Linked DNA regions of Homo sapiens. The protein of the gene in region 7 purifies or fractionates together with the protein of the main gene of each other region. This does not show direct contact. Each region holds a gene or a part of one and is shown on either strand. Other genes may lie near its edges. The genes, in order: YTHDC2, MAP1B, TMEM169, PKP2, CISD1, IQSEC1 and SLC20A2.

Evidence for each region.
Region 1: the proteins of SLC20A2 (region 7) and YTHDC2 purify together in Homo sapiens (affinity purification with mass spectrometry; one large-scale study listed by BioGRID and IntAct). This does not show direct contact.
Region 2: the proteins of SLC20A2 (region 7) and MAP1B purify together in Homo sapiens (affinity purification with mass spectrometry; one large-scale study listed by BioGRID and IntAct). This does not show direct contact.
Region 3: the proteins of SLC20A2 (region 7) and TMEM169 purify together in Homo sapiens (co-immunoprecipitation; one large-scale study listed by IntAct). This does not show direct contact.
Region 4: the proteins of SLC20A2 (region 7) and PKP2 purify together in Homo sapiens (affinity purification with mass spectrometry; one large-scale study listed by BioGRID and IntAct). This does not show direct contact.
Region 5: the proteins of SLC20A2 (region 7) and CISD1 purify together in Homo sapiens (affinity purification with mass spectrometry; one large-scale study listed by BioGRID and IntAct). This does not show direct contact.
Region 6: the proteins of SLC20A2 (region 7) and IQSEC1 purify together in Homo sapiens (affinity purification with mass spectrometry; one large-scale study listed by BioGRID and IntAct). This does not show direct contact.

The regions. Positions count from the first base shown.
Region 1 is NC_000005.10:113,586,357-113,590,901, forward strand, and holds part of YTHDC2 (3'-5' RNA helicase YTHDC2), read left to right. Parts: intron 1-4,545. UniProt on the Homo sapiens protein: 3'-5' RNA helicase that plays a key role in the male and female germline by promoting transition from mitotic to meiotic divisions in stem cells.
Region 2 is NC_000005.10:72,109,746-72,114,290, forward strand, and holds part of MAP1B (microtubule-associated protein 1B), read left to right. Parts: exon of another isoform or gene 1-3,742; intron 3,743-4,545. UniProt on the Homo sapiens protein: Facilitates tyrosination of alpha-tubulin in neuronal microtubules. Phosphorylated MAP1B is required for proper microtubule dynamics and plays a role in the cytoskeletal changes that accompany neuronal differentiation and neurite extension.
Region 3 is NC_000002.12:216,084,137-216,088,681, forward strand, and holds part of TMEM169 (transmembrane protein 169), read left to right. Parts: intron 1-4,545.
Region 4 is NC_000012.12:32,886,260-32,890,804, forward strand, and holds part of PKP2 (plakophilin-2), read right to left. Parts: intron 1-4,545. UniProt on the Homo sapiens protein: A component of desmosome cell-cell junctions which are required for positive regulation of cellular adhesion.
Region 5 is NC_000010.11:58,271,870-58,276,414, forward strand, and holds part of CISD1 (CDGSH iron-sulfur domain-containing protein 1), read left to right. Parts: intron 1-4,545.
Region 6 is NC_000003.12:12,929,809-12,934,353, forward strand, and holds part of IQSEC1 (IQ motif and SEC7 domain-containing protein 1), read right to left. Parts: intron 1-4,545. UniProt on the Homo sapiens protein: Guanine nucleotide exchange factor for ARF1 and ARF6. Guanine nucleotide exchange factor activity is enhanced by lipid binding. Accelerates GTP binding by ARFs of all three classes.
Region 7 is NC_000008.11:42,469,769-42,474,313, forward strand, and holds part of SLC20A2 (sodium-dependent phosphate transporter 2), read right to left. Parts: intron 2,887-4,545; 5' UTR 2,623-2,886; coding exon 2,334-2,622; intron 1,434-2,333; exon of another isoform or gene 1,299-1,433; intron 1-1,298. UniProt on the Homo sapiens protein: Sodium-phosphate symporter which preferentially transports the monovalent form of phosphate with a stoichiometry of two sodium ions per phosphate ion.

The DNA.
Region 1 (4,545 bases), on a different chromosome or scaffold from region 7:
TTGATTTGTCATCTTTCACTGAGTTGTAAGAGTTTTCTGTATATTCTGGGTACAAGGCTTAATTATTATATGTTTTGCATATTTTTTCTAACAGTATGTGGCTTGTCTTTCCATTTCCTTAACAGTGCCTTTTGAAGAGCAAATGTTTTTAATTTTGATGGAGTCCATTTCATCAGCTTTTTCTATTATGATTAGTATTTTTTTGTGTACTAAGAAATTTTGTGTACCAAACCCAAGATCATAATTTTCTCCTATGTTTTTAGAAGTTTTATAGTTGGCAATCTTACATTTTAGATATATGATTTATTTTAAGTTAATTTTCGTTTATAGTATGGGTGAGTCAAGAATTACTCGTTGGCTTTTGCTTATACAATTGTTCCAGTACCGTTTGTTAAAACCATTTGTTTTTTTCCATTGAGTTACACTGACACCTTTGTCAAAAATCAACTGGCCATAAATATGTGGTCTACTTATTGGACTCTTCAGTTTCATTAATATCTCTCTCTCTCTCTCTCTCTATATATATATATAATATATAAATATATATTATGTATTCATATATAATATATAAATATATATTATGTATTCATATATAATATATAAATATATATTATGTATTCATATATAATATATAAATATATATTATGTATTCATATATAATATATAAATATATATTATGTATTCATATATAATATATAAATATATATTATGTATTCATATATAATATATAAATATATATTATGTATTCATATATAATATATAAATATATATTATGTATTCATATATAATATATAAATATATATTATGTATTCATATATAATATATAAATATATATTATGTATTCATATATAATATATAAATATATATTATGTATTCATATATAATATATAAATATATATTATGTATTCATATATAATATATAAATATATATTATGTATTCATATATAATATATAAATATATATTATGTATTCATATATAATATATAAATATATATTATGTATTCATATATAATATATAAATATATATTATGTATTCATATATAATATATAAATATATATTATGTATTCATATATAATATATAAATATATATTATGTATTCATATATAATATATAAATATATATTATGTATTCATATAATATATATAATGTATTTATATGTAATATATATTATGTATTTATATATTAATATATTGTACATACATAATATATAGTATATTTATATATTAATATAATTAATATTTATGACATATTATTATATATATATTTGCCAGTGGTACACTGACATTATTTTAGTAGCTTTATAGTAAGTCTTGAAATCAGTTAATCCTTCAATCAATTGTCCTTCAACTTTGTTTATCTTCTTCAATATTATTTTGGCTGTTCCAGGTCCTTTGTACTTTCATATAAACTTTAAAGTCAGCTTATCAGTTTCTGCAGAAAAATTTTTTGGTATTTTGAGTGGAATTGCATTGAATCTATAGATCAATTTAAAGAAAATCAACAATTAACACTTCTTAGTCTTCTAATCCATAAGCATAGTATATCTGTTCATTATTTGGATAGTCTTTAATTTCTCTCAACAATGTTTTATAAATTTCAGAGTACAAGTATTACAATTTTTTGTTAAATTTCTCCCTAAGTATTTAATGTTTTTGATACTGTTCTTTAGAATTTTAATTGCAGGTATTCATTGTTAGTATATACAAATACATTTGATATTTGTATATCTGCCCTGAATCCTATGACCTTATTTCATTTATTAATTCTATTAGCTTTTTATGCCTTCTGATAATAAAGATAATTTTACTCTTTTCCTTTTCAATCTGATTGCTGTTTATTTCTTTTTTACCTTATCTCTCTGGCCAGAGCCTCCAGCAAAATATTGTTCAGTGTTGAGAGCCACATATCTTTCCCTTGATCTTAGGGGGAAAGCATTTTTTGTCTGTTAGTATGGTGAATTTCATTGCTTGATTTTCTTATGTTTATACCCCACTTGGTCATGGTGTTATTTTTATATATTGCTGGATATAATTTTGTTAAATGAGGGATCTTTGTTCATGAGGGGTATTATTCTGTAGTTCTTTTTTCTTATGTATCTTTGTATGGTTTTGATGTCAGAGTAATGCCGGCCTCATAAGATTAGTTGGGAAGTGTTTGTCCCACTTCAGTATTTTAGAAGAGATGTGTAGAATTGGTATTATTTCTTCCTTGAATATTTGATAGAATTCACTTATGAAGCCATTTATTTATTTATTTATTTATTTATTTATATTATTTTTTTTTGAGACAGAGTCTCACTCTGCCACCCAGGCTGGAGTGCAGTGGCGCGATCTCGGCTCACTACAAGCTCAGCCTCCTGGGTTCACGCCATTTTCCTTCCTCAGCCTCCTGAGTAGCTGGGATTACAGGCATGTGCCACCATGCCTGGCTAAGTTTTTGTATTTTTCAGTAGAGACAGGGTTTCACCATGTTGGCCAGGCTGGTCTCGAACTCCTGATCTCAAGTGATCTGCTCACCTCTGCCTCCCAAAGTGCTGGGATTGCACGCGTGAGCCACCATGCCTGGCCAACAGTGTTCTTTTATTTTACACTTTACTCCTTTATGTTATATTGTTTTCATACATTTTGTTTTTATATAAATGCTATAATGTATTGTTTTTACTTTACATAGTCAGTTACCTTTATGAAGATTTCAAAGTCAGAAAAATATATTTTTACATTTATTATTACTAATCTTGTGCTCATTATACTTTTATGTTAATACGAATGTCCATTTTGTATTATTTACTTCTGCCTGAAGAACCTCCTTTCTGGGACTCTGGATACACAGATGTAAGACCATCTCATATGGTTCCACAGGTCACCGATGTTCTCTTCATTTTTTTCAGTCATTTTTCTGTCTTCATTTCAGATAGTTCTACTGTTTTGTCTGTACGTTCACTGATGTTTTTATTTAGTGTCTAATCTGCTGTTCTTTCCTTCTAATGTGTTTTTAAAGGCAGTATTTTCATCTCTAGAAGTTCAAGTCTTTTAAAAATTAAAAAAAAAAAAAATATATATATATATATATATATATGTATATATATCTTCTGGCCCGGCGTGGTTTATGTCTGTAATCCCAGTGGTTTAGGAGGCCAGGTTGGGATGATAGCTTGAGGCTAGGAGTTTGAGAACAACCTGGGCAACATAGGAAGACCCTATCATCTCTACAAAAGAATAAAAAAATTAGTTGGGCATGGTGATGGGCCACCTGTATTCCTAGCTACTGGGGAGGCTGAGGCAGGAGGATCACATGAACCCAGGAATTTGATTTTATAGTGAGCTGTGATTGTGCCACTGCATTCCAGCCTGTATGACAGAGTGAGACCCTGTCCCCCTAAAAAAAGTTAATAATATCTTCCATTTCTCCTCTCATTATGTTCAAGTTTTCCTCTACCTTCTTGGACATAATGAATGTATTTATAACAGATGCTTTAACATTCTTGTCTCCTAATTACATCAACTCTGTCATCTCTGAGACTGTTTCTGTTTATTACTTTTGGCATTTTTTTCTTTTACTTTTCTTTCTGTTTTGTCTTCTTGTTATCCAGTGCTTTGTCTGTGGAGAAAATGCAAGTACAAATTTTATATTCCATATGCACATGAGAAACGGGTTCAGATTTGTAAAGAGCTAGTAAAAATCTACTTGTAAATGTGTCTGATTGCTCATTGCAATCAGAGTCTCAAGATGACAACAGTATTTAACTTCTCTTCAGCCTTAATTATGTAAATAACAACCTTTGTATATTCTTTGTGTTTCTTATAATTTTGTTGGGCAGCTAGGTTTTTGTATATTCCTTTCAATAGCGTTAGACTTTGTTGTGATGCACAGTTTAGTTGCAATCAGTTGAATCCTTTTGAAGTTTGCTTTTAAGTAATGTTAGGAATGGGCCAGAGCAGTCTTTATTCTGTTATTAATTTAGTTCCAATACTAAGGTATGGCCCTTCTGTGGGCCAGTACCATATATATTACAGGTTCTATCTGTTCTGGCTGAAGATAACACGAAATATTCCCAGCCATGAGTGAGCTCTAGGAATTGTTTGGTCTACTTGTTTTCCTTTGGATCTTTCCCTAGCCTTGGGTTATTTATCTTTTTTCTCACTCATGTTCAGGTCAGCACTTAGCCAAAAACTTGTGGGAACCCCTCTGTGTTTCCTTTGGAGCTCTCTTTATGTGCAGCTCCTTTCTGTCTAAGATAGTACATTGCCATGCACAGTAGCCACTTCGGTCTCTGAACTCCAGTGTCTTTCTGCACAACTTAATGAGACCACTGGACTCTGTTTTTCTTTGTCCTCTGAAAACTGCCTCCAGGCAGTAAGCTGGAGAAGTATTTGTTTTGTTTTCTGATTTTGAAAGTTTATTAAAACAATTTCTGAAAGTATATTTGAGGTATAAACCAAAGTTGGTACTCCAGGAGCCTTTGTTGATAAGGGATTTTGAATGCTCTGAAAATGAGTACTTGTTTTTGGCTAACTTTATTTTGGTTGAGTCTTGTGTAGGTTTCA
Region 2 (4,545 bases), on a different chromosome or scaffold from region 7:
TTGGCTAACATCCTATGATGGGAGGAAGGTTTCAGTACAACAGTTTTCAGGGCTTGCCTTTGTATGGCCATCCACTTGTGGGCAGCGCCCCATGCTGGGAGATGGTTCAGCAATCACCTTCGGATCGTAATTATCTTCCTGCTTTGTTACTCATCTGATCATCCTTTCAGCGCCCTATTCCTCAGAGGGTTTATACAAGCTGCATCTATTTATGGAGAAAACAGACGCATCCACGTACTGCTATGAAGAAGGGCTCCCTGCCTTTACTCGTTTTTACACTACTAGCACTTAGTGACAAAATTCAGATTTGTCTTCTTGACATTAATTTTTTAAAAAATTCGGTTGAAGTATTATATAGAGAGGAAAGGGCACAAATCAAAGATGAGCAGCTCAACGAATTTTCACAAAACGGACACGCCTGGGTTACCCAGATCAAGAAACAGACATTACTGGAACCCCAGAAGCCCCCTTGTGTTCCCTTTGCAATAGACATCATGGCTTCCTGATTTTTTAATTCCCTAATTTGGTCAGGTTTTTGCATGGAACTCCGAAATGACTGTATTGATCCCATTAAGAATCAACCAAGTGAGTGAGCAGAGCCGTTTCTTTACACACCGTAGCAGATGCTGCTTTTCCTCTGAAGATGGCTCTCCTGGGTTCTGGGGTCTTGGCTGCAGCTCAAGATGCAGGCCCTTCCAGCGCTAAGTGAAAATCCTGCTCCCATAGCTTTTCAGACAGTCTGAGATGACTTAGCAACAGAGCAGGCTGGTCCTGTTTTCCTGTGCACGACAAGCTGCTGCTTCAGCCGCCAGGTCTCAGCTGGGCCTCCTCCAGAGGCCACTGCTGTTGTTGCTTGGTGCCTTTGGGCCTTGTTGTGTGAAGCAAGATGGAGCTGCTCCAGGGGGGCCAGCTCTGATGATTGTGTGTTGCAGGCTGGGAAGGCAGTTCCGCATCTGTTACTCTTTCTTCCTATTTCCCCTCCTGCCTTAACTGAGATTCTGGGTTTGGAGACCCTGGCGACTTGGATTCTTGCCATCCGATTACTGAGGGCTCTCTGGGAAGCCTAGAAAATAATCTATAAATCTGTAGAGACATGGTGGTAATGCAGTAAATCAACAGGCCTGGAACGTCCCAATGTGGATGCTTCGTAAATGCCTCTTGAAACCAGGGAAGAGAGATGGTCCCTCTTGCTTTCTCAACTATATTCGGAAAGCATAATGAAAGCTTTGGACATGTCTCCTCCAGAGTTTGGAACAATAGTGTTTCCTCGGACTAGGCTAGCTTCATTTATTTAGTTATGCAGGACTTTATTCCAAATCGTTTTCGCTACCACCAACTACTACTCTTTGGCACCTCCTTTTTCTCCTCCCTAATTAGCCCCCAGCATGGATTTAGCTAGTGGTTCTCATTTTCAGCAAAACCCTGCTTCTTGGTTTTATTTTAATACATAGAGGACATACATCCGTGTCTTGCAAACTGAATTCTAGAGCCTTGTGAACGTTTTCATTGTTTCATTTTTTTTTTAAGGAACTAAAACATATAAAGAATATTAAGTGTCTGTTGGATGTTTTCAATTACCGTTAGATTATAACTTTTCCTTTAGTTAACACTGGGAATCAGCAAGATTTGTTGGTGAAAAGATAGATGAATGTAACATCTACTGCTCTGCATTTTTAGATAAAAGTTTAGCTGATTACATTGTTACATTCTGATGTCACTTAACTGAATGTCCTTCAGTCTAAGATGGTAAGAGAATTTAAAACCCAGGAAAGATTTGGGGTTTAGTTTTCCTTTTCTTTTAACAGGGGAAATAAGAAACCAATACCATATGTGGTGAGAATTAAATGTTAGAGAGTCTTAAATTTACTATATTTGCCTATACTTTTCAAAGTCGAAGACAGATGGATTTCTGCTTGCACTGCTTAATTGGTATTATCTACGACAGCTCTGTGATCCATGCTGAAACACAAGGCAGTCCCCAAATTTAAGGTCATTAAATTGTTCACCTTCTCTAAGGGCTTACTTTAAAAAAATAAGTTATAACTTTTTAGACAAGCAAATAATTATGTCACTTCTCATTTGCTTGTGTTGTAAGATGTTATCTCAGACCTAAATTATTTATTATCAATGCTTTGAAACTATGAGCTCTGTATGTAAGATATTATCGTCATTACATACATATGTTATGAACATCAAGTTGCTGGCTTTAAAAAAAGAAAAAAAGCAAATTAAAGATGAGTTCAAGGGAAAAAATAAGAATTTTTTCCTCTGAGAAATAAAGCATTCCTAAATGTAGCATTTCCTTTAGTTCATTTATTTAGTTTATGATTTCAATCTGATTTCAGACCACTTTTTAGCATAGTTTTACAAATATAATCTTATGATTCTAGGTTAATGATTTAGGTACTTGGAAAAAATATCCAAAAGCCTGTTTTTCAGAGGGAGCAACTAAAGCCCATAAAGGAAAATCAACTTGCCAAAGGCCCAAATAACTGTCAGATAGAACCCATGTGCCATCAACATACAATGCATGGTCATTTCATTTTGCTTTCTTCAATCCACTGTCACCTTTAGAAATATGAATTTTAGCTTTTAAATGGGAGGTGCTTTTTTAAATTGTTGGTTTCATTAAACAACCCTGCAAAATGCTTACATGATTGGAAAACTTGGAACAATCTAGCCTGTACACACCAAGAGTACCTGACTTCTCCTCATTTTTCACCCTGACTTGTTCTTTAATGACCCCTCCCTGCCTCCCTGCCCCATAACCTATTCTTTTCTCCTTTTCTCATCTGTGTATATCATGTGCATGTCAGCCTCCCTTGTGTGCACTGCTACCACCTGGGGTCAGAGAACTGAGAAGGAAAGATCTTTTGTTGCTCCCTGGTCCCAAGGAGCTCACTTTCAGGGCTGGGCAATAGCCACAGAGCAGGCCCAGATTGTTCTCAGAGATGACGGATGCCTTTTGGCTCCAGACATTGAAAGAATGGGGTTCACTGCCTCCAACTGCCTGGAGTTATTCTGCCCCCACCTGGGTAAGCCCAGAAGGGGTACAGTCTTAGAATGCTGGGGAAACAAAGCCTCCAGGAAGAGCTTGACTTGGTGTATATTGGGGTGAAAATTAGAAAGAGGGCTTCCCTGCTCCCCAACAGAGACCAGGATGACTTGCTTCTGAAAGCCTCTTTAGAACCTCTTCACCAACACCCCAGGATGCCCTCCAGCCAGATTCAGAGAGGGGAGAATATGGGAAGGGCCAAAGAGATATTTTTCTGTCCTGTAAACTTTAGAGGGCTCACTGTTGGCTCCTTGTTAGGCACAAAGGGGAACTACATAAACCTACTAAATGCAATATGAACCTTCATTAACAACTACTCTTTGCCTTTACCAATATTATCCAGCAGGAGATACAAAGTAATTACAAATTATTTTATTTCTAAAATTGGTATGGAAAGTGGCCTGATTCCAAAATTTTCCTTTCCAACTAAAATAGCTGGCAAATCCAACATAACCTTTATTTTATAAGTGGTAGTAGTGGTTGTGCATTGCTAAGAAACAATTTGGGTGGAAATTGCTCTCTTGAAAAAAGAACCCTACATTTTTAGTTTCATTGGGAGTGTAAAAATGAGAAATATTTTTATCAGCCGTTTACTAGTATAATTTAGAAATTACTAAGTGGATTTATCATTTAGTACTTTTTCTATTGCTAAATTACAAATATGTCAAAAATAAAATATGTATGAAAATATAAAGCAAACATTTAATTGTGTGTGCCATGACAAGTTAACTGAAGCCAAGGGAAAATGGCAAGTAACAATGTAAGAGCAAGTCTGCAGATAACCCTGGATGAAGTCATTCAAATAATGTACCAATTTAGACATTACTTAGAACAAAGACAGAAAAATTGTATGAATTTAATTTAAATGCATATGTCTCATTATTAACTTATTGACCCAGCTTGACAGGGTAGAAGACAAAGTAGAGCTCAGACCTGGAACAAGGAGAATTCAGTCAACAATACCAATTAAGCAGCTCAGACAGGAACTCGATTTTTTTGCACTAGACTAGTATATAGTGTATACATTGAAGTAAAATATTCTAATGAATTCAGACCTCTCAACCTGTCAAGCTCTCTGTGAAACAAAAAGAACCCATTTATCATTTCTGCACTAAAAAGATCTGCGAAATCTCAACATGCCTTTCTTGTTAAAATTCAAATACTCCATTAGCACAAATGCAAACTGAGGCTATTAATGTTTCCAGGAAGAGCCATAAAATTCTCCCTTATAATTTGACCTTTCCTTAAGCACGTTAACTCTTCCACATCTGAATTCTTCCCATTGATCATATGAGAAATTTCTGCCTGTATTTAGTGGACACACATCTATTTGAAAATATTCCTCCTGGTTGAAAAGGTCTGTGGTGTGTAATCTAAAGATATTTTAGATGTGCAGTGAACTGAGTTTCCAGAATCTTTTTTTTTTGTAATGTCTATGTATAATCCACCTTGATTCTTTACAGGATAGGAAGACTGAATACAATATAACC
Region 3 (4,545 bases), on a different chromosome or scaffold from region 7:
CCCATTAGCAATGACTGCCTTCAGCTTCCCACCCCTCCCCCACCCCATCTGCCTGGTAACTTTATTTTCTCCCCTCTGCAAAGCAGCTGCTAGCTCAGACTGACAGGGGCTTGTGGGATTCTCGACATTTAGACTCCCAGAATCTCAGTGCTGAGAGAATGTCAGTGAAGCATCTGGTCCTGCCCCTACCTTGAAGCAAAACTACCTAGCAATTGTGCCATAACAAGGCATATAAAGGAGCTTATTGATGTCTTTTTATTAAACTTCTCCTTAGTCTCAGGCTTTCACAAAAAATAAGCTACTCCTGAGTTGCTACCACTTCACCCAGTCACTTAAAAAGATTTATCGAGCATCTATTTGTTGGCCTACTTCTATGGTACCACTTCATAGGGCTTGAAGTCTAGTAGAAGAGCTATGCAATAAATAAGTAAAAGAAAAATAAATAATGACAAATGTTGGTAAGCCTTACACAGGAAACAAGCTGTTGTGATAAAGAATAATGAGAGGCAGAGCAGGGAGTCAAGTTTTTAGTTCGGGTGTCAAGAAGGGCTCAGAGGAGGAAACATTTGAACAAGGACTCAAAAAAACAAAAACGGGCACAGGAAGAGGCGGGGTGGAGCAGCAGAGCAGCAAGATAGACAGCAGTTAAGAAGACCTCAAGCATTTGGAAGCATTTGGTGCTCTTGAGGAAGAAATACACAGCCAGTGTGATTGGAGCATAGTACCCCTACTATGGTGGTACAGATGGGGTGGCAGGATGGGGAGGTCCTTAGGCCACATGGACTTCCACATGTATAACAGTAGGAAGTTACAGGAGGATTTTAAGCAGAAAACAGCCTGATTTTCTTTTTTATTTTTATTTATTTATTTGACATGGAGTCTGGCTCTGTATCCCAGGCTGGAGTGCAGTGGCAGCGATCTCGGCTCACTGCAGCCTCTGCCTCCCAGGTTCAAACAATTCTCCTGCCTCAGCCTTCCGAGAAGCTGAGACGACAGGTGCGCGCTGCCACGCCTGACCATCTGATTTTCTTTATGTTTTAAAAAGATGTTTCTGGCTGGGTGGCTCATGCCTGGAATCCCAGCACTTTGGGAGGTGAAACCCCATCTCTACTAAAAATACAAAAATTAGCCGGGTGTGGTGGCACACGCCTGTAATCTCATCTACTCGGTAGGAGAATCAGGTGGGGGAGGTGGGGGTTGCAGGAAGCTGAGATTGTGCCACTGCAGTCCAGCCTGGGTGACAGAGTGAGACTCTGTCTCAAAAAATTAAAAAAATTAAGTAAAAGATGTTGCTTACTGCTGAGTGAGGAATTGATTGGAAGGCAGCAAGAGTGGAAGCTGGAAGATAGGAGCATTTTTTTTAGAACCACAGTTAAGAGACAGTGGCCTCCTAGACCAGAGGGGAAGCAGTGGAGATGGGAAAGTTGGGTGGATGAATTTAAGAATTATCTGGGCCGGGAGCAGTGGCTCACGCCTGTAATCCCAGCACTTTGGGAGGCCAAGGCGGGCGGATCACCTGAGGTTGGGAGTTCGAGACCAGCCTGACCAACATGGAGAAACCCCTTCTCTACTAAAAAATACAAAATTAACTGGGCATGGTTGTGCATGCCTGTAATCCCAGCTTCTCAGAAGGCTGAGGCAGGAGAATCGCTTAAACCCAGGAGGCAGAAGTTGTGGTGAGCTGAGATCACGCCATTGCACTCCAGCCAAGGCAACAAGAGTGAAACTCCATCTCAAAAAAAAAAAACAAAAACAAAAAAAGAATTATCTGGATAATTTTTTTCAAGAGTGGCTTAAAAGCAGTTATTCTAAGCACGAGTTCCAGAGTATGAGCATGTTCTTAAAAACCTGTTTTCCCTCCTACAATGACCAAGAGTACAGAGCTAATGGTTGATTGAAGCTAACACTCTGTAATATCACATTTGTAAGAATCTTTTTTTTTTTCTGAGGCAGAGTCTCACTCTGTTGCCCCGGCTGGAGTGCGGTGGTGTGATCTTGGCTCACTGCAACCTCTGCCTCCCGGGTTCAAGCGATTCTCCTACCTCAGCCTCCGGAGTAGCTGAGATTACAGGTGTGTGCCACCATGCCTGGCTAATTTTTGTATTTTTAGTAGAGGGGGTTTCACCATGTTGGCCAAGTTGGTCTCAAACTCCTGATCTCAAGTGATCCACCTGCCTCGGCCTCCCTAAGTGCTGGAATTACAGGCATGAGCCACCGTGACCAGCCTGTTAATAATCTTTAGACTGGAAGTGGAAGTGGAAGATGGGCACAGCTTAACTGCCAGAGAAAAGAACAAAGTCCTCTCTCTTCTCTCAAGTCTATTGATTAAAGCCTTGGAAATTGGGTAAAATTTTCTTTTAACCTCTCTCTTGTGAAATCTAAAAGGAAGGAGAAATGTTTAGAACCTGCTTCTCAGATCAAATACTTACAGCATAATAAAGTATACAAAAATGGGGAAGAGAATCAAGCCTTTCTTTCTTAACAGTTGTTTATGTCATATTTCTGGTAAGACATTTTCTCTTCTGTGTCCTATGAAGTCAACAAGTACATACTGACTTTGTACTACATGTCCAGCCCTGGGGTTTTCCCATTGGTGGTTAAGAAGAAGAGTAAGACAGTTCCTAAACTCTAGAAGTTTGTTATCTACCTAGAAAGATGAATGAAAACTCATGATGCCATCTATAATCTATACAATGATATGAAATGCTGCATAATTAAGTATTAAGTGTATGGTTCAGATGGCAAATGCTATTAAATTACAAATAGAAGGAGGCAAAAGAAAGGGAATAGAAACTAATATTTATGAAGTGTCAGTCACATATTAGGCATTTTATACTGGGCCATTCATTGAATTCTCACCACACACCTGCAACACAGGGTTAGGGTGGGAGGAGAGGACGTGGGGGCTGGGGTAGTCACAGAAGGGGACGTGAGCGAATGAGTCTGTCTTGAGCCAGGCTTGAAAGATGTGGAGAAGCGTGACAAAGATGAAGAAACCAACATAAGCACATGTGTTGAGTAGTCACGTTGCAGGAAAGGGAAGGGGAAAATTGCTACTGAATCCTAGGGTGGGGTGCAAATACGGAGAGCCTCAAACACCAGACAGGCCTTCAGATATATTTTAGTCAGTAATGGCAAGACAAAATAAAAATATTGTTTTGTTTTGTTTATTAATCACCATTAATATGGTAAAAAATGGTAGAGGAATGTCTTCCATTTTAGAATGTCTTCCAGTTTAGAGGAAGTAGTATGAAGGCTGTATTCTGGCATATGGTGGTAGTAGAAATTCAAATGAACAAATTAACAAAAAGATTTCATAGGAATGACTAGCAGGACTTAGAGACTAATTATTATTAGGTATATGGAAATATGTCCTTAATATAGGAAATGGGTTCATCAAAGAACATTCTAGAAGTTTATAGATCTTTGCATAAATGTTGGCGGGTAGTATGGCACAATGAAAATAACATGGGCTTTGAAATTAGCAAACCTGGGTGTCAGTTCCAGTCCCACCACTATACTAGCTATGTAAGCTTGAGCAAATTTCTCCTCTAAATGGGAATAATAAAGGTACCTACTTCACTGGTTTGCTGTGAATATTGAACAATACGATTATTGTAAAGTACTTAGAGCAGCACTTGGCACACAATAAACATCCAATAAGTTTCTGTTGTTACTATTATTCAGTCCAAGTGTCCTCTTCTGCAAAATAATACTTGCTTCATAAAATTGTTGTACCTAGGCTGGTATGGTGGCTCACACCTGTAATCCCAGCACTTTGGGAGGCCGAGGCAGATGGATCACTTGAGGTCAGGAGTTGGAGACTAGCCTGGCCAACATGGTGAAACCCTGTCTGTACTAAAAGTACAAAAATTAATTGCACATGGTGGTGTATGCCTGTGGTCCCAGCTACTCAGGAGGCAGAGGCACGAAAATCGCTTGAACCTGGAGGCTGAGGTTGCAGTGAGCTGACATTGCACAACTGCACTCCAGCCTGGGTGACCAAGCGAGACTCTGTCTCAAAAAAAAAAAAAACAAACAGGCCGGGTGCAGTGGCTCACGCCTGTAATCCCAGCACTTTGGGAGACCGAGGCGGGCAGATCACAAGGTCAGGAGATCGAGACCATCCTGGCTAACACGGTGAAACCCCGTCTCTACTAAAAAAGAAATACAAAAAATTAGCCGGGCGTGGTGGTGGGCGCCTGTAGTCCCAGCTACTCAAGAGGCTGAGGCAGGAGAATGGCGTGAACCCGGGAGGCGGAGCTTGCAGTGGGCTGAGATCACGCCACTACACTCCAGCTTGGGCGACAGAGCGAGACTCCGTCTCAAAACAAACAAACAAACAGACAAAAATTGTTGTACCTAGAACAACTATGCAATATATAGCACATAGTGTTGCTTAATAAATATTTACTGAAGCTGGGCACAGTTGCACATGACTGTAGTCCCAGCTACTCAGGAGGCTGAGGTGAGAGGATTGCTTGAGCCTAGGAGTTCAAGTCAAGCCTGGGCAACATAGAAAGACCCCATCTCTAAAAATAAATG
Region 4 (4,545 bases), on a different chromosome or scaffold from region 7:
CTCTCGTTCTCCACAAATCTTAAAAGATTTAACTTCTCCCATTACAGTAAAGTTGAGGACATGTTATTCCAGGTAAGACATGGGATCTTGCCACTTATTCAGAGGAATTTGTATAGCAATTCATATTTGAATGGATCCTTAAAGTCATTTACTAGCAATAGTAGGAGCTTAAAAGAAAGCAGAAAATATACTGAGACTCATCAAAGACCATACGTATGTCCGCACTCCTGAGTTGGTGAAGGAATTTTTTTTGTTTTTTGTCTGTCTGTGTTGGCATAAAACATACGATTCATTTCCTTGGACTTACATATTTTTTAAAACTATATTTTATCTTCTATTCTTACTTTCCAAGAAGAACAACCAGATATTGATGGAAATCACAACAGCCCAAGTAAGCATTTGCTTAGGCTGGAAAATAAGTAGAATTTGTTGGTTTAGAAAACTATAGTTGGCTGGGCAGGGTGGCTCACACTAGCAATCCTAGCACTTGGGGAGGCTGAGGTGGGTGGATCACTCGAGTCCAAGAGTTTGAGACCAGCCTGGGCAATATAGTGAGATCTCGTCTCTACAAAATTTTAAAAATTTAAAAATTAGCTGGGCATGGTGGCATGGGCCTGTAGTCCCAGCTACTTGGGAAGCTGAGGTGGGTGGATTGCTTGAGCCCTGGAGACAGAAGTTGCAGTTAGCTGAGGTTGGGCCACTGCACTCCAGGCTGGGTGACAGAAAGCAAGACTCTGTCTCAAAAAGGAAAAAAAAAAAGGGAACACTATGGTGAAAAATTGTTTCAAAGCAGATGAAAGTCTAATAAAGTTTTATACTATTGAAAATTTAACCAATAGTTGTACAGTGCTATATTTTGTGACCAGTTAGCTCACATAATCAACCATGAGAAACAACTTGGTGTATCAGGTATATGCTAGAAAGTACTGGCTATGAGTTCTTAAAACGTTGAATATGCCAGGGACAGAACAGCTCTCCTGCAAGAGTGGGCCACACATACCACATGCCAGTGTGCGACTGACTAATCCATTGCTGTTATCACTCACACGATATACCAGCCACTAGAGTCCTTATTTTTCAGGAGCCCCCTAAGCAATTCAAGAGCTATCTTCTGATATACCAATTTATGACATTTGGGGGGCAATCCTCAAATCACTGCTCTAGGTAATGACAAAAACACATTTTAAATGTCCCCCTCCCACTTTTTTTATTGAGATGGAGTCTTGCTCTGTCGCCCAGGCTGAAGTGCAGCGGTGCGATCTTGGCTCACTGAAACCTCTTCCTCTCAGGATCAAGCGATTCTTGTGCCTCAGCCTTCCGAGTAGCTGGACTACAGGTGTGTGCCACCATGCTGACTAATTTTTGTATTTTTAGTAGAGATGGGGTTTTGCCATGTTGGCCAGGCTGGCCTCAAACTCCTGGCCTCAAGAGTTCTACCCGCCTCGGGCTCCCAAAGTGCCAGCGCTTTAGGCGTGAGCCATTAAATGGCCCTTTTATATCACAGGTGTTCATGTCATATTTTGTTTGAGGTATTAGAATATGTAATTGTAGAATTTGTTATTATAAACTGGTAATTTAGCATCCTGGTGAAGTATTAAATAGAAATATCCTGGAAGTATCTAAATCTGTTCATTTCTCAGCCAGGCACGGTGGCTCATGCCTGTAATCCCAGCACTTTGGGAGGTCAAGGTGGGCAGATCACTTGAGTCCAGGAATTTGAGACCAGCCTGGGCAAAAAGGCAAAACCCCATCTGTACAAAAAAAATACAAAAATTAGCTGGGTGTGGTGGCGTACACCTGTAGTCCCAACTACTCAGGAGGCTGAGGTGAGAGAATGGCTTGAGCCCGGGGGGCAGAGGTTGCAGTGAGCCAAGATGCACTCCAGCCTGGGCAACAGAGACAGACGCTGTCTCATGAATGAATGAATGAATACACTGTTCATTTCTGTAACTGTGTCTTTACTTTGGCATTCCTGCCAATTATTTGCTGAGATATCTCATGAGACTTTAAGACTTGTAAGACTTTATAACTTCCATGGCAAATATCACATTATACTCCCAATAATATAAAAAAAGGTGAATTTATAGAACTCACAAATTATTTTTTGCTTTAAAATACTTACTACAGGTTTTCTTTGTAATGACTTTCAAGTCATTATATTTCCCCTGCCTCTCACGTGCCAGGGTTAACCCCTCCCAACTGATTCATAACTGCTAACCCAACTTTTCTTTTTCTTTTTTTTTTTTTGAGACAGATTTTCACTCTTGTTGCCCAGGCTGGAGTGCAATGGCACGATCTCGGCTCACCGCAACCTCCACTTCCCGGGTTCAAGTGATTCTCCTGCCTCAGCCTCCCAAGTAGCTGGGATTACAGGCATGCGCCACCACGCCCAGCTTATTTTTTCTGTACTTTTAGTAGAGACAGGGTTTCTCCATGTTGATCAGGCTAGTCTCAAACTCCCGACCTCAGATGATCCACCCGCCTCAGCCTCCCAAAGTGCTGGGATTACAGGCGTGAGCCACTGCGCCCGGCCTCTTTTTTTTTTTTTTTTGAGACAGGGTCACTCTGTTGCCCAGGCTGGCGTGCAGTGGTGCATTCAGAGCTCACTGCAGCCTTGAACTCCTGGCCTCAGGCGATTCTCCTGTCTCGGCCTCTCAAAGTGCTGGGATTACAGGAAAGAGCCACCATGCTAGGTCTGTTCCTACTTTAAATCCACCAAATCTGTCAAATGTATTTTCACAAAACTCCTGCACTTTTCATGTTTCTTCCCTGTGGAAATATCTGTGACTCACAATTATCAAATTCTTTAACTTGCATTCAAGATCAGAGGAGAGGGGTGAAGGAGGCTGCCTATAAGGGACACAACTGAACTAAGTTAACTGGGCAAGAGAAGGAAGGGAGGGAGACAAGGAGGGGTAGAAATACCAAGCAAGATAAACTGCCTGTGTGTGTTTGGTGGGGAGCAAGGGTAGTGGCCCCAGGGATGAAGTTTGAGAAGTTGCAGGCATTAGATCACGAAGAACTTGGAATGCTGTGTTCAATAATTTTACTCTTGCAGATAACAGTAAGAAACTGAAGGAATTTAAACTGGGAAATGATGCAATGAGATTTTAGAAAGTTCACTCTAGCAGCTGTGTGGAGAATGGATTGGAGTGGGGCCACGTTAAAACAAAGAGGTTATTTTCTCTTCCAAAGAGATTTTGACAGAAAGAACTGTATCTTACACTACCACTTCTAGCACAGTCTTGTATCAGTACTTGACAAGTTAATTGTTGATTAGTCAGATTACCTGTACATTAGAAATATCCTAGTTACACAAATTCAGTTTGCGCTTAATCATTCAGGCAGGTATGTATTCTGTGGCTCACCAGAATGGAACTAAAATGTGAGTATGATAGTCACATACATGCTTTTGTCTTGGGGTAGATGGAAGGTGCTCAAATAGTTTCGACTGTTCTCTGTCATTCTGGGTATACGGAGAGGAAGGAAAGTTGCTTCCCCAGAATGTAGGCAGACTTTTATTAGAAAAGCAGACTTTGGGCCAGGTGCAGTGGCTCATGCCTGTAATCCCAGCACTTTGGGAGGCCGAGGCGGGTGGATCGGTCAGGAGATCGAGACCATCCTGGCTAACATGGTGAAACTCCATCTCTACTAAAAATACAAAAATTAGCCGGGTGTGGTGGCACACACCTGTAATCCCACTTACTTGAGAGGCTGAGGCAGGAGAATCGCTTGAACCCGAGGAGACGGAGGTTGCAGTGAGCCGAGATTGTGCCACCGCACTCCAGCCTGGGCATAGAGCGAGACTCCATCTCAAAAAAAAAAAAAAAAAAAAAAAGAAAAGCTGACTTTGTTCATTTTGGCAAGGTTGTTTCTATATTTGAATAATATATGTTTACTATCATTCTTTTATCTGTATGGCTTGTGTATTTATCTGTAATATTTTGGTGGCCTATAAATTCATATTATCTGTCAAGAAAAGTTCCCATTTGTTTTCATTCTTCAATGAAAAAGAGTAATCAAGATCCAATAAGCTTGATGCTCACCCACACCCACCCCATAAATAGCTTACTGAGAGATTCAGAAAAAATAATCCATTAAGCTTCTAATGAAGGTTTTCATCCACAAATTCTGGAAATCAAGGAATTGCAGAACTTTGATTATGACTGCTTAGGTTAACGAATGTTATTAAGTCTAAAGCTGATTATTCCAAGAATATAAATATGTGAATTATTTTAATAGTAATGGCAGGTTGTGTTTTCAAATGCTTAAGTTTCTTTTTTTCCAACTGTCCATTTTTATTTAAATCTACATATTGAGCTCTCAAGCTTTTGTCTTTAAACACTTTAAGAACATTACAACTGTTTTTATGTCCAATATCCAATTACCAGAAATGGCATTATAGAAAAGATACACAGGCCGGGTGCGGTGGCTCACGCCTGAGATCCCAGCACTTTGGGAGGCAGAGGTGGGCGGATCACCTGAGGTCAGGAGTTCGAGACCATCCTGGCCAACATGGTGAAACCCTGTCTCTACTAAAAATAC
Region 5 (4,545 bases), on a different chromosome or scaffold from region 7:
ATACCAGTATGGTCGATAAGACCATTAGTTTATTATATTTTCTAGTACTAAGTGGCCTTCACTGCCTACTCGTCCAGTCTCTTATGATTCCTCCTCATATCCAAATAGATGACCTTTCTGAACATCATCCTGCTCCTTGATAACTCTAGCACTCATTGATCACTCTCACCCTTAACCCTTTCTCTTCTATTTGCAAGGAAGATGTTAACTCTTAGGCTGTTCTCTCTCCATGTCCTCCAGATGCCGTTTTCTTTTGCTTAAATCTTTGCCTCAGTGATATCTGTTGTTCGTAAATATTTAGTGCCTCATAAAGATTTTCTTCAGCCTTAAGTCACTCATAATTCACCCTCATCTTTAAAAAAAAAAAAAAGCCAACTATACCAGGTAATTTTGAAAGGCATCCCTTAACCTGCCTTCCCCTGAAATCACTTTTTTTTTTTTACTTTACCCTCAAGTTGCAACATAGGGATTTGTCTGTTCATCTTGTACTTCATTATCTATCCCAAACCCTGATCACTACAACGCTTGTAACCAAAATTACATTTCATAAATTCTTATTCTCTTTCATATTCTTGTGTATTTTATTGAAACTAATTTTCTAATTCATTTAACCACAACATAGGAAAATATTGTTTTGGTTCACTAAATTCACCAAGTCATTTAAAGTCATTATTTAAGGGTTTTTGTCTGAAAAGAAAGGTATGGATCATACTGAAAATAAAAGGGATAGCTCCTATAAGTTATAAACAATAAATGAAAAATAAGAGGGCTGGGTGCGGTGGCTCACGCCTGTAATCTCAGCACTTTGGGAGGCCAAGGCGGGCAGATCATGAGGTCAGGAGTTCGAGACCAGCTTGGACAACATGGTGAAACCCCCGTCTCTACTAAAAATACAAAAAATTAGCCAGGCATGGTGGCACGCATCTGTAGTCCCAGCTACTTGGGAGGCTGAGGCACGAGAATTGCTTGAACCCAGGAGGCAGAGGTTGCGGTGAGCTGAGATTGCACCACTGCACTCCAGCCTGGGCAACAGTGCGAGACTCCATCGCAAAAAAAAGAAAAATAAGGGGGGAGTTTGGAGCTATAGACTGGCCAAATTGATGGTGGTTAGAGCTAATTGAGGGTAAATGGGATTCATTATAGTATTCCCTGTGTGTGTCTGAAATGGTCCATAATAAAGTTTTTTTAAAACATAGCTTCTTATATATACCTGAAGTTTTTTGTTTGTTTGTTTGTTTGTTTTTAATATATGTATCAGGGAGTAAATTCCACACCCTGATACAGCAGGTTAAGAAGAAGGTAAAGATAAGTCATTTAGTATAAGAGCAATGCAGTGTAAGGATAGAAAAATTGCACATAGGAATTGCAAATTTAAATTAGTCATCCATTATTTCTTTTGACTCAACCAACATTATTGAATATCACTTATATGCCAGGCCTTGAGAAAAAAAAAAATTACCAGGCACGGCCTGCCAGCCTATGGGAGATCTAAGGGAGGGAAGGGTTTAAGCACAGCTCCCCTCCCCCTCTCCTCATAGAAGAGGAGAAACATTATGATTCTATGGCAGTTGATGGTGGGCTGGAGAGGGCAGTTTAGAGCAGAAAAGGGGCTAAGGTAAAAGAAGCCGAGAGAGATTTCTAAGTTAAAGCAAAATAATGCTCACAGTAAAAGAAAAAAAAAAAGCTGAAGATTGGGTTATATACAAGGCTGATGAGTTTGGGAACAAGTCCACGTTTTCTCTCTCTCTGAATAATTTTAAAGAGAAAACCAAAGATTATACAATAGTACTCCAATGGAAGAATAAGCAAATGGGAGGATTATTCAGAAATTATTGGAAGTGTTACCTTTCTCTACATTTGTGATCTTTAATGGTATTTGTGTAGATATAAAGCATGATTACACAAGGTCTGGTAGGGTGAGGTTTGACCTAACTACAGGAATTAACTGTCCTTGAGAAATGTCTATAGAAAAGAAAAGCGAGGGCTGGTCATGGTGGCTCATGCCTGTAATCCCAGCACTTTGGGAGGCCGAGGCAGGCGGATCACCTGAGGTCAGGAGTTCAAGACCGGCCTGGCCAACATGGTGAAACCCCATCTCTACTAAAATTACAAAAATTAGCCAGGTGTGGTGGTGGGCGCCTGTAATCCCAGCTACTTGGGAGGCTGAGGCAGGAGAATTGCTTGAACCCAGGAGCAGAGGTTGCAGTGAGCTGAGATTGTGCCATTGCACTCCAGCCTGGGCAACAGAGCAAGACTCCATCTCAAAAAAAAAGAAAAAAGAAAAAAGAATTGGGTCTCAGTAAAGTTCCTTGTTGCTTCTGAGATTATGACAATTCTTAATAGGCATATACCCATTTATCAGGGATTATTGGATGTTGCTATTTTTATTTGTTCAATTTCTCAGGTCTTCAGTTCTTTCTTTATCCTAATTGTTGATTTTTGGACCTGTCATCATTTTTGTCTATCTCTGTATAGTTTCCTTTTCCTTTAGAGTTGCCAGTGGCATCCACAGCTTTTTGCCAGAAAAGACTGATGATTCAGGCTACACTCATGAAGTGATAAAATAACAACTTTTTTTTTTTTTTTTTTTTTTTTTTACTTCTGGGAACTGTTGCATTTGTCCCTAATGAGATTACAGAATTAGAATTTGGGAAGGGAAAAAAAAAAAAGAAATGGAAATTGTTTTCTCAAGACCTTAGAGCAAATACAAAGCTATTTTCCTCGAACACATGGTACTGTGACATTGGCATAGGGTCATAAGTGGCCCTTGCTAGGGGTTGGGGGTAGAGCACAAAGTGTGTGTTTTGATTCCCCATGGGGCAGCTAGTCTTGGGTATCTGGAGTCAGTTTCCATTTCTTTCAATGATGCCTTTGGTGTTACCCCTTTTCCATGTCAGTTATTCTGTCCTGTCTCCCACCATCACAAAATCCAAGGGAGGTAAAGCTTAAAAAAAAAAGTGACCTGTGGGTGCAGTTGGCAAATTACATGAGAAAAAAGAATGCAAGAAGAATGGGATTTAATGACTAGGAGAGATTATTTTCACTTATCATGATGAGTTTCATGTAGAAATTCCTATAGTATTCTCTTTTTAGGTCATGAAACAAATTAACCAATACTAACCAATTGTAGTTCTTTGGATCTCAGGACTGTTTGCAATATGCAGGTGCCATCAAACAAATATGTTATGAAGTACTTTATAATTCACCTAAAAAGTAAAGTGTAACTAAAATCGACAGCATTAAGGAAGTTGCGTTATTTTAGTCTTTTGGGATATTGCCCCCCTTTAAGTTTGTACTAAAGATGATGTTCAGCAAATGTTGTGGTGCATATACTATGCAAAGCAGCATTTTCGCCCATTTTGTGATAGGTACATTAGCTATTCAGAGTGGCTTTCCATTAGCTAAGAAGTGGATTGCTACAGCTCCTGGCATAGGAAATGTTTTCTCAAGAAAGTTCCATGGTAAATAACATTAGAAAGGAAGATCATGAATCTAGCCAGAAGTCATAGCAAAATTGTAGACCTGCTTGGAATAACCACAGGGTAATACCATGAAGCAGCACTAAAGTTGGAGATAAATCTACACATAATGTGTACCTACTTAAAAAATGTCTTCTGATGAGGCCAAAGGTTTGAAGCTGTCAGGTGATATATTAACTTAACTTGTCTTCTCAGTCATGCAGGACCTGGGAAAGACGAAACATTAGTGTTTATTAGGGAATTATAGCAAGAAAGAATGATAATGCTACGGGAAGGAAAACAGTATAAATTAATTTGTTAAGAAAAATACTACCGTGGTTGAAAATAAAATCCAAGGAACACATTAATTAGAAAGTGAGGATAAACCGGAAGAGGCAGAAATTATGCTCTCTTACGAGATGAGCAAAATGCAGGAATAAGTTAGATAAAGTCTAAATTATTAAATAAACTAGAAAAGAAGACCAAGATACAAGAGACTGAGAATGATCCTTTATATTACAGTTTTAGAAGATTAAGCTCCAGTTTTATGTAAGGTACTATTAGGTATGGTGAAATAAGAAATTTGACTCAATAGTGCAAGTAAACTATACAACTAATTATTAATTATGTGTTTTTATTTGGCCTTGGGATGTGTTTTTTTGTACTTGTCTGTCTAGGGTTTTATTTGATAGTCTGGGAACTTATTTCAAACACTGAAGATCTGACTCAGGAAGTGCTGGGAAGGAGTCCAGTGTGTTTATCCTGACCCCTGTTCAACTTCTTCCTGCAGCCCACTCCATGCTGGGAATAGACAACTCTCCTCTGAGGCTGAGGCTAACCAGATTATGCAGAACTTTCTTCTCTCCAACATTGCCTGGAGCTGGGGTAGTTGTTAAGTCCTTGGGTTTCTAAAGACTTGAAAAGCTGCTTGAAAAGAATAACTAGATGGCTTGTTAGTCAGTTTTTTTATTATTAGAAAGCAGAATAATGCCATTAAATTTAAAATAAATTTTATAGAAAATTAAAATATATTTAGAATTTATTAAATGAGAATATAACTATACTTATATAATCATGTTTTCTACAA
Region 6 (4,545 bases), on a different chromosome or scaffold from region 7:
CCCTAAAATGCCCCAGCAGGCAGTGTAGTCGGAGCCTCCTGGCTCCATCCCTGCTGTGTGCTCCCAGGTCTGGCCTTAGCTGCCTCCTCTAAAGCTGGCTGAGCCAGCTTTTCCTCACATCAGATGACGATTCAGATTCAAGTGTGACAGGTAAGCACAGACTGCACCAGTCACTTCCTGCACACGCATCTCTCATCGTCTTTCAGCGGCAAGCTGAGCTGCTGGTGGGAAGAGTGAGCTGTGTGAGGCTCTGAGGAAGAGCTGCTGCAAGGCTGTGGATTGCACGTGGGGAACACCTACCTGCTGGAGCAAAGCACTGAGTGCTTACCCTGGTATTTTCCCAGCAGGGGTGTGCAGGATCCAGGAAAGGGTTCTCTCTCTCTCTTTTAAGACCCAGGTCTCACTATGTTGTCTAGACTGGCCTCAAACTCCTAGTTTCAAGTGATCCTCCCGCCTCAGCCTCCCAAGCAGCTGGGACCACAGGCATGTGCCATTGTGCTTGGCTCCAGTCCTTTTTAACTGTTCAGGATGCCTAAGAGATGTGGAAGTGGATGGATGCCCAAGCACCTAGCTTCAGCCCCCAGGTTTCCCAGCCTACCCTCCAGCTCAGGCCCTAAGACCTAGTGGGCAGATTCTACTCTCTGCTCCAGGCCAGTCAGAGCCCTGCATCCTGCTTGCCCAAGTGGTTCAGGGAGAGGCACAAGAGCCAGAAGGAGCCGATGAGGGGAGGAGAATCTCTCTTCCTCCTACTGGGGTTGCCTTGAGGTCAGACTACAGGCCTGGGGTTCTCTGATGGCCCTCCTGCCCTGGGTCAGGGAGGATCTGGCAAGGGGCAGGGCCAACCCTAAGCCAGATGGAGCCAAGAAATACCCGGGACTTTTCAGGTCCGTGAACCAGTAAAGCCTCTTTGCTTAACCCAGTTTGATAGAGTTCCTGTCACATGCAACAGAGAAGGCCATGATTAACGCAGAGACCAACACAGGGTTTGGAGTGCCCGAGGATCTCCGTGGTCAGAGGTCTGAGCCCTGGTAACTGTTAACTGCTTGTGGGGGTGAGGATAGACTCACCAACTTCAGCATTCGGAGAGTCCCTGCACACCTGAAAATGCCCTTCCAATGCAGCAACCTAGGGTCCTGCAGAGAGGTGCCACTTCCAGCCTTTCCCACACTGCCAGGGCCAGCAAGCTCGCCACCTCCGGAGGCTGCCTGCTCCACCAGCTCTGACTTTTACACGCACTTTCTGGTAGCGTGAACCCAAGTGGCTTCCCTGGTATTGATCCCAGAGAGAAGGCAGGAGAATCACCCTCTGAAGTGTGGCAAGCACCCCCTGCAGGGCTTCCCTTGGCACTGTCTTCTTCTCCAAGACTCAGCACCAGCCACCTCAGACCCAGGCCAGGGCTCGGGATCCTGGGCTGCGGGTAGCATCAAGGGCCACAGGCCACAGTGGCCTGTGTCTAGGGGAGAGGGGTCCCAACCTCCAAAGACCCAGCTCAAAGTGCTCCTAAGAGAGCCCATCCTTTCCATCATCAGCACCACAGGCTACGGGAGCAGCACTGCACATCCTCTGGGCCCAGCACTTCTGGTGTGTGGCCTTGAGCTTGGGCCTGGGCTCTCAGCCTCGCTGCCTGCACCTACGCTTCCCAGGATGGCTGTGGCGAATCAGTGAGACAATAGGCGGAAGGTGTTCGGCATGGGGCCTGGCGCTTGGTCCAGGCTCTGCACAGGCCGGCTCTGCTCACTGCTATTTTTATCAATGACAGCAGACACGTTAAACACAAGGAGCACAGAGCTGGAGCATGCAGATCAGGGGTACTCTCTGAGCCCTGTTCCCACAGGTGGAGGGGAATGGCCCCCTGGGGGCGCTGGAAGGGTGAAACAGCCACGCTCCCTGCAGGATCCCAGTGACAGCATCCCCTGCCTCCCTTCTGCAGTAGCTCCAGCAGGTGGATGGGACCCGAGGCTGCTGGGCCCCAGGGGCTGGGCGCCGAGTGTAGGGGAGGCCAGGTCCACAGAAGGGGGCTGCCTCCAGGTACAGGGCCCTGTGCTGGAAGGGCCTCAGAGGCCCCTGTGGAAAGCTCTTAGCCAAGTAGTCCAACCACACTGTCACACCAGGTGGCCACCCAAGCCCTGCGTACATGTTTCTCAGAGACAAGCTTCTCACTCCTTTTTGAGGGTGCCCGTGTCATCATGAAGCAGCTCTGGGGCCAAGGATGCTCTTGCAGAGGTGGGAGAGGTCTGGTGTGGCTCACCTGTGACATGGTCACCTGGGCTCATTCCAGGGAGGAATGTGACAGACAGAAAGTGGACATAGCCAGGCATGTACCCCTGACGGTGTGTACCAGGTACAGGAGCAGGAGACGCTGGGGTGGGGTTCCAATGCGGAGGTGACAGACTCAGTGAGGTCCCTGCTGGGCACCTGCCCCAGCTCCATGTGCTGCAGGGCTGCATGGCGTCCCACAGATGGTGTGGCTCTGCCTCCTGGACTCAGTTTACAGATCTGTCACCCAGTGAGGAGGTAGGGAGCCCAGGGATACCTGTGGTAGCAGTTCCTACATCATGGATTTTAAGAGGATGTGTTCAGGAGCCAAGTGGCCAGGGTGTGACGTCCCTAGTCGTCTACCAACTATGTGAGACTCAGCTCACCCACTGCACAGGGTAACGTGCGTTAGCGCGTGACAGGCCCTGGGAACCATGCCTGGCGCACCGTCAGCACATGGAAGGATTAGCTATTCTCGTTATTTCTGACTGCTTGGCCCATCACAATGCCTGTTTGGGTCTTCCTAAAGCCCAGCCCTGGAAGCTCCCTTCCCTTGGCACTCTGGACACAGAAGCCCTTGCTGACCACAACAGCTGCCATCCACTGCACAAACATGTTCCGGGTGCAGGCAGTGAGGCTCAGAGAGTTCAGGGAGTTGCCCCAGGTCCCACAGCTGATAGGTGGCAGATCCAGGACTGAAACCCTCCTGCCTCTGGCTCCTGCACCCCTGCCCTCCCGCAGCACCGCCAGCCAGATCAGCTGTGTGGCTGTCAGCTGGGCCAGCTGGGAGTAAGCGGCAGATGCCCAGAGGAACATCTGGAGGCCTGGTAGACCTCGGCAGCCCCCGGGATGCCCTCCCCACCAACCTACACCACTTTCTCAGGCTTCGTTTCTGTTCTTCCTCCCCGCTTGCTGCTGGCTCTCCCACTTTGGTACATGATTCCCTTAAAGGGGGCGTCCCCCCAGACAGAGGCCTGTGCCAGGAACGCTCACTGCTTCGTTGCTAGGAAGGGGTGGGAACTGAGAGCTGTGCTGGAGGCCGGGCAAAGGCCGGGACATACCACCCCGCAGGGAGAGAAGTGGAGGTGGTACACAGGCGCAGGGCCAAAGAAAGGGAAGGGAAAGGGCAGTTCCTCCTTCAACTAAAAACGTGCCTAGCTAAGACCCAGCAATTCCACTTCCAGCCATATGATCTAGAGGCCTGCCAGGTGTGTGTGTAAGGATCACAACCACTGTCACACTAGTGCTAGTTATGAAAAGCTAGAAGCAACTGGCCAAATAACCTATAGCCACGGCGGGGACTACCACTCAGCAGCACACAGGAGCAAGACAGCCTGTGTGTAGAGCCCAGCGATACCCTCATAAGACAATGTCACAGTCCCGCGCCCTGAGTGATGTCAGCAAGGATCCAACAGTAGCAGCTAATACATAGTAAGGCCCTATCCTGTGCCACGTCCTGCTTTCAGCACTTCACACAGACCAACGCTTTACCCTCACCGCCCTGGGAGGAGGGTGCCCCTGGCATCAGCCATTTCACAGATGCGGCCACTGTGGGACGGGGGGTTATGCTGCCCAAGGACATAGAGATACGATGGGGCACAGCCAGGATTTAAAGCCAGGCAAGCAAGCCCCAAGCTGTGTTCTTAACCATGGCTGTCTAGAGTTCCTAGAAGTGCACACAAATGCACAGGAAAAAAATCTGGAAGGAGAGACTGCAACATGCTGAGTCCAAGAGGATGTTATCCTGAGCTGCAAGGCATGCATTTTCTGTGAAGAATGTATTCACGTGCTACACAGATAATTAAAAGTTAACTGAATAAGAAAGAATCTACACAGACCAAAGCTGGCTGGTTGAGGGAGGTGGTTTTTCCTGGTTTCCTGTCTCCCCACTGCTGGCCTCCACCTGTCCACTCTGCAGGGACCCCTGGTTATCCCAGCCTCCCCTCTAGGGCACATGGGCCTGGGTCGAGAGATGATCCTGGAGCTCGGCTGTGCCCAGGAGCAGTGGGGACAGACTTCAGGGACCGTGTCAGGTGGGCCAGCAGGATGCAACCCTCCCCTGTCCAGCGCATTGCTCCGGCCGTGGCCTGTGCAGCAGTGAGAGCAGCCGTACTCTGCAGCAAGCCACAGGCAGATCACAGGCTCAGGAGAGAGCATCCTGGTAGATGTGAGATGTCCAAGACTCTTTGTTCTTAGCTGAGCAAACCAGTAAGCCATTGCCCCTTACTGGCCCCAAGTGAATGCACCATTCCCCAGAGGCTCTTCCTGAGACAGGCCTCTCTGACATCC
Region 7 (4,545 bases):
AATACAAAAATTAGCTGGGTGTGGTGTCGGGTGCCTGTAATCCCAGCTACTTAGGAGGCTGAGGCAGGAGAATCGCTTGAACCCAGGAGGCAGAGGTTGCAGTGAGCCGAGATCACACCACTGCACTCCAGCCTGGGCAACAAAGCGAGATTCCGTCTCAAAAAAAAAAAAAAAGATTTAATTTTGTCAGTGTTTTTCTTGATTTGTCCCATACTTTCAACACATCTAGTCAGATTTTCCTGACTAGAAAAATCTTAATTTCCACTTGATGGAATTAAATCTTAGATATCTATCACAACTAAAAAGGTGAATTTTACAAAGAACGGTTATTTTTCTAAGAGAAATTTCCATTATATCTGACTATGCTGAGATATACATATGTTCCATGAAGGTAAGTAAAATTCAATAATGACTATAGTTGTTGGAATGAAAGTGATCTTGAACCTGATTTTTTTTTTTTTTTTTTTGAGACAGGGTCTGGCTATGTCGCCCATGCTGGAGTGCAGTGGCACAATCACAACTCACTGCAGCCTCAACCTCCTGGGCTCAAGCAATCCTCCCACTTCAGCCTCCCAAGCAGCTAGGACTACAGGCATGTGCCACCATGCCCAGCTAATTTTTTAGTTTTTTTGTACAGACAGGGTCTCCCTATGTTGCCCAGACTGGTCTCAAACTCCTGGGATCAAGTGGTCTGCCCATCTCGGGGGCCTCCCAAAGTTGAACCTGACATCTTTACAACACAAAGCGTCAAGCTGAGAAGTAGGAGCTCCCTGGTGTGTGTTACTGGCCTACAGTGCTTGGTGAATATGCAATTCCTTAGTACAACAGGCTGCTTCTTATCAGACGCCTCGAACAACATGAGATTGGGCCATTGTGAACTTGGTCAATAATCTCTAAATTCCAGGTGTTTAAGAAATGTGACAGGCCAGGTGTGGTGGCTCACGCCTGTAATCCCAGCACTTTGAGAGGTGATGGTGGGTGGATTGCTTGAGGTCAGGAGTTCAAGACTAGCCTGGCCAACATGGTGAAACCCTGTCTCTACTAAAAATACAAAAATTAGCCAGGTGCGGTGGCACACGCCTTTAGTCTCAGCTACTCCGGAGGGTGAGGTGAGAGAATAGCTTGAACCCAGGAGGTGGAGGTGGCAGTGAGCGGAGATCACACTATTGCACTCCAGCCTGGGCCACAGAGCAAGACTCTGTCTCAAAAAAAAAAAAAAAAAGAAAAGAAAAAATGTAAGTGACAAAATAAAGAACTCGGGGGAATGTGGCTGTATTCTTAGTACACCAGCATCTTACCTCCTGCTGCAGGACTCTTCCTACAAGAGGATATGTCCTGTTGAAAGCAGAAGGTGGTAGAATTCCTCTCTAACCCTCTTCTCCCTAACCAAATTACCCGTATACATCAGCTGTCTGTTGTGTCGTCATCTCTACCTAGAGGCAAGCAGAAAAAGAATCCTGTCAGCTGCACTTAACACACGCCTGCCGGGAAGGTTCTTTTCTGTCGTAGCGAGGGCAGTGATGGGAAGACCCACGGGGCCGAGATCTGTGTCCGCTTAGGCCATGGGGACATCACTCTGTCCAACCAGCCACTCTGCTTATTCACACAGTTCACACACCTCCACACTTCATGTAGACAACTTGAAACTGCAATAAAAGGTCATGCTATCACCAGGCAACACGCACATTATTTTTTGGCCGGAAAACAAAACAAACATACCAAATGGAGCTCCCAGAGGTAGAATCAGAAAATCAAAACAAAAGCCAACAAAAGGATGACAAATAATGTAAGAGACCAGAATTTCTTGAAACACACGCACTTAAGATTTATTTGGTAACTTCTTTAGAACTTAAACTGTGAATATAAAAGTTAGACTAATAAATATTATTTTTGACATCCAAGTTTTCAAAACATTGCCTCCTAATTGATGAAAAACCTTAAGAAAAAAATCTAAATCAACCTTCCTGGAAATTTCATACATCAACCTTGAAAACACATTCACTTAGACAACCTTCAAACAACTCTAAAATAATAAAGCGCTGTTCTACAAAGGTCTTTTTCTGTACTTTCTGAAAAGTATTCACTTAGCTGAAATCTATTTTAGCAACCAAGTTTGCTCAAAAGTTCAGAAAATAAATGGTTGCCTGATATTTAAACACTTTAAAAATCATAAATTAATATGCAGAAAGCAAAAATAAGAGAGTAAATGTGAAACATCCAACCAGTTTTTGAAAAGCCAAAGCAAAAATCACATTTATGGATATGGGCAAAGTACTGCAGGGAAGCGGGTCAGTGGGCGGATGTCCCATCGGTATAGAGAAGAGGCTACTCACCAACCATGGCACTAACTTCCCCAGCCATGAGAGTCTCCACCGTCTCGTTGTACAGGTTCACGTCAATGATACCTTTGCGAATGGTTTCTCCTACTTTGGCGCCTAGTAACACGGAGCCGGTGGTTTCAAATATTGAAGCTAAAATGCATGCCTGCCTCAAGGTCACCACACCAGAGCCCACGGCTGTACCAAAGGAGTTGGCAACATCGTTTGCACCAACAGAAAAGGCCAAGATGAAAGCTATGATGAAACCCAAAATGACCATCCACAAATACTCATCCATGGCCATTTTGGAAAGTGGGTGCCGGGTACTTTTCTTTTGCAGGAATATTTTAAATAAACAAAGCTTGAGGTTATAAACTTCGTAAGGCCAAGAGTTCTTGTAAACAGTGAGTTTGCTCTGGAAAGTGCTGGACAATGTTAGAGGCTGGACAAACTGCTAGCTGCTGGTTTGCAAACTACTGTCAGGACAGTTCATTTGGTTGTGTTCAGTCAGCGGTAAAACACATTCCATATTTTTCCTCCCGATCTGGGAAAGCTGTGATGTCTCCTCCTGTAGCAGAAAGGAAACAAAAGAAATCAATTATACTCAGCAACCTGTAACAGTTTGTTCTTTCAGAAATAAATGTTTTAAGCCTGCTAATGGGATCTAACTTTGGCATGTGACGGACCTAACCATAAAGCAATTCAAGGAAGATTATAATTAGGATAACCACCCCCAACCAAAAACACAAAAAAACCTGCTTTCTAGAATTGTCAGGAGTTGAAGCATGCTTAATAATTACAGACTAATAGTAATCCTTACTAGGTTACATTTTTCATGCAATCGGAAAAACATATTTGGTCATTATTTTCAGAGAGGAACAAGTGCCTCAAATGAGCAAAAGATTAAGAAATGAGAAATTTAGTTGCATGGCTTTTCAAATATGTGGAATGTGTCCAGTTTCCTGGAACAGCAATAACCAAATCTGAGTCTGTGATACCACTGGGTGTGGCCAACGACCCACCTCCACATTTACGCATAAGCAATGAGCACAGTATATTATCATGCATGTGTCTGGGAGAGTTTACAGGCCTGGCGAGAGGTCACTCATCTGGAGGGTGACCAAGGCAGGAACTGACAGGCCCCAGAGAGGAAAAGAGAAGCCTGGAGAATGAGGCAATCCTATCACTACGCCACTATCCCATCTCACTAGGAGGAAAAGCTAGAGGCCCCGCCAGGGTCAGGAAGACCCTTCAGGCCTCCTCGCAGCTCACTGGCCTTAGCTCCTCTCCCCTCCCTCACAATGCCCTGGTGTCACTGTCCCCTTGCAATCCCTTAGAAAGACCAGGCACACTCTCACCTCAGGGCTTTTGTACCTGAGGATCCCTCTGCAGGAAGAATCTTCCCCCACAGCTGCACAGCTCCCTCCTCCCTGCATTCAGGTCCCTGCTCAAATATCACCGTTAAGAGAGGACTTCCCTGACCCCAGAAGGAGCAGCCCCTCCCCCATGCCACTGTTCCTGCTTCTGGGAGGGAGAGGAGATGCCATGAGATACATCCATGAAATAAAAATGTCACTGCAAGCTTCGTAATTATGGTATTCTATTATTGGAGAGCCAAGGCACTGTATATTTTCTTTGAATGGTATCAAGCATATAAATGCTTATTGAGTTGAACTGAATAAATACCACACCATATACAATATAATAATTTGACCCATCAATAAGGTTATTTAAAGGGAAAAATCAGGACACACAATTTTATGTACACTGTGATTATGGCAATGTTGAAAATGCATATAAAAGGCCGGGTGTAGTGGCTCACGCCTATAATCTCAGAACTCTGGGAGGCCGAGGTGGGTGAATCACTTGAGGTCAGGAGTTCGAGACTAGCCTGGCCAACATGGTGAAACCCCATCTCTACTAAAACTACAAAAATTTGCTGGGCCTGGTGGCAGATGCTTGTAATCCCAGCCACTTGGGAGGCTGAGGCAGGAGAATCGCTTGAACCTGGGAGGCAGAGGTTGCAGTGAGCCAAGATCATGCCACTGCACTCCAGCCTGGGCGACACAGCGAGACTCCATCTCAAAAATAAAAAATAAAAATAATAATGCATAAAAATACCCAGGGGTATATACTAAAATTATAATAGAGGTTGAATAGGAAGGTTAGAGACAATTTTTTCCTTTCCTCCCCAAACTGTATACTGTGGTTACATGCTTTTTAAATG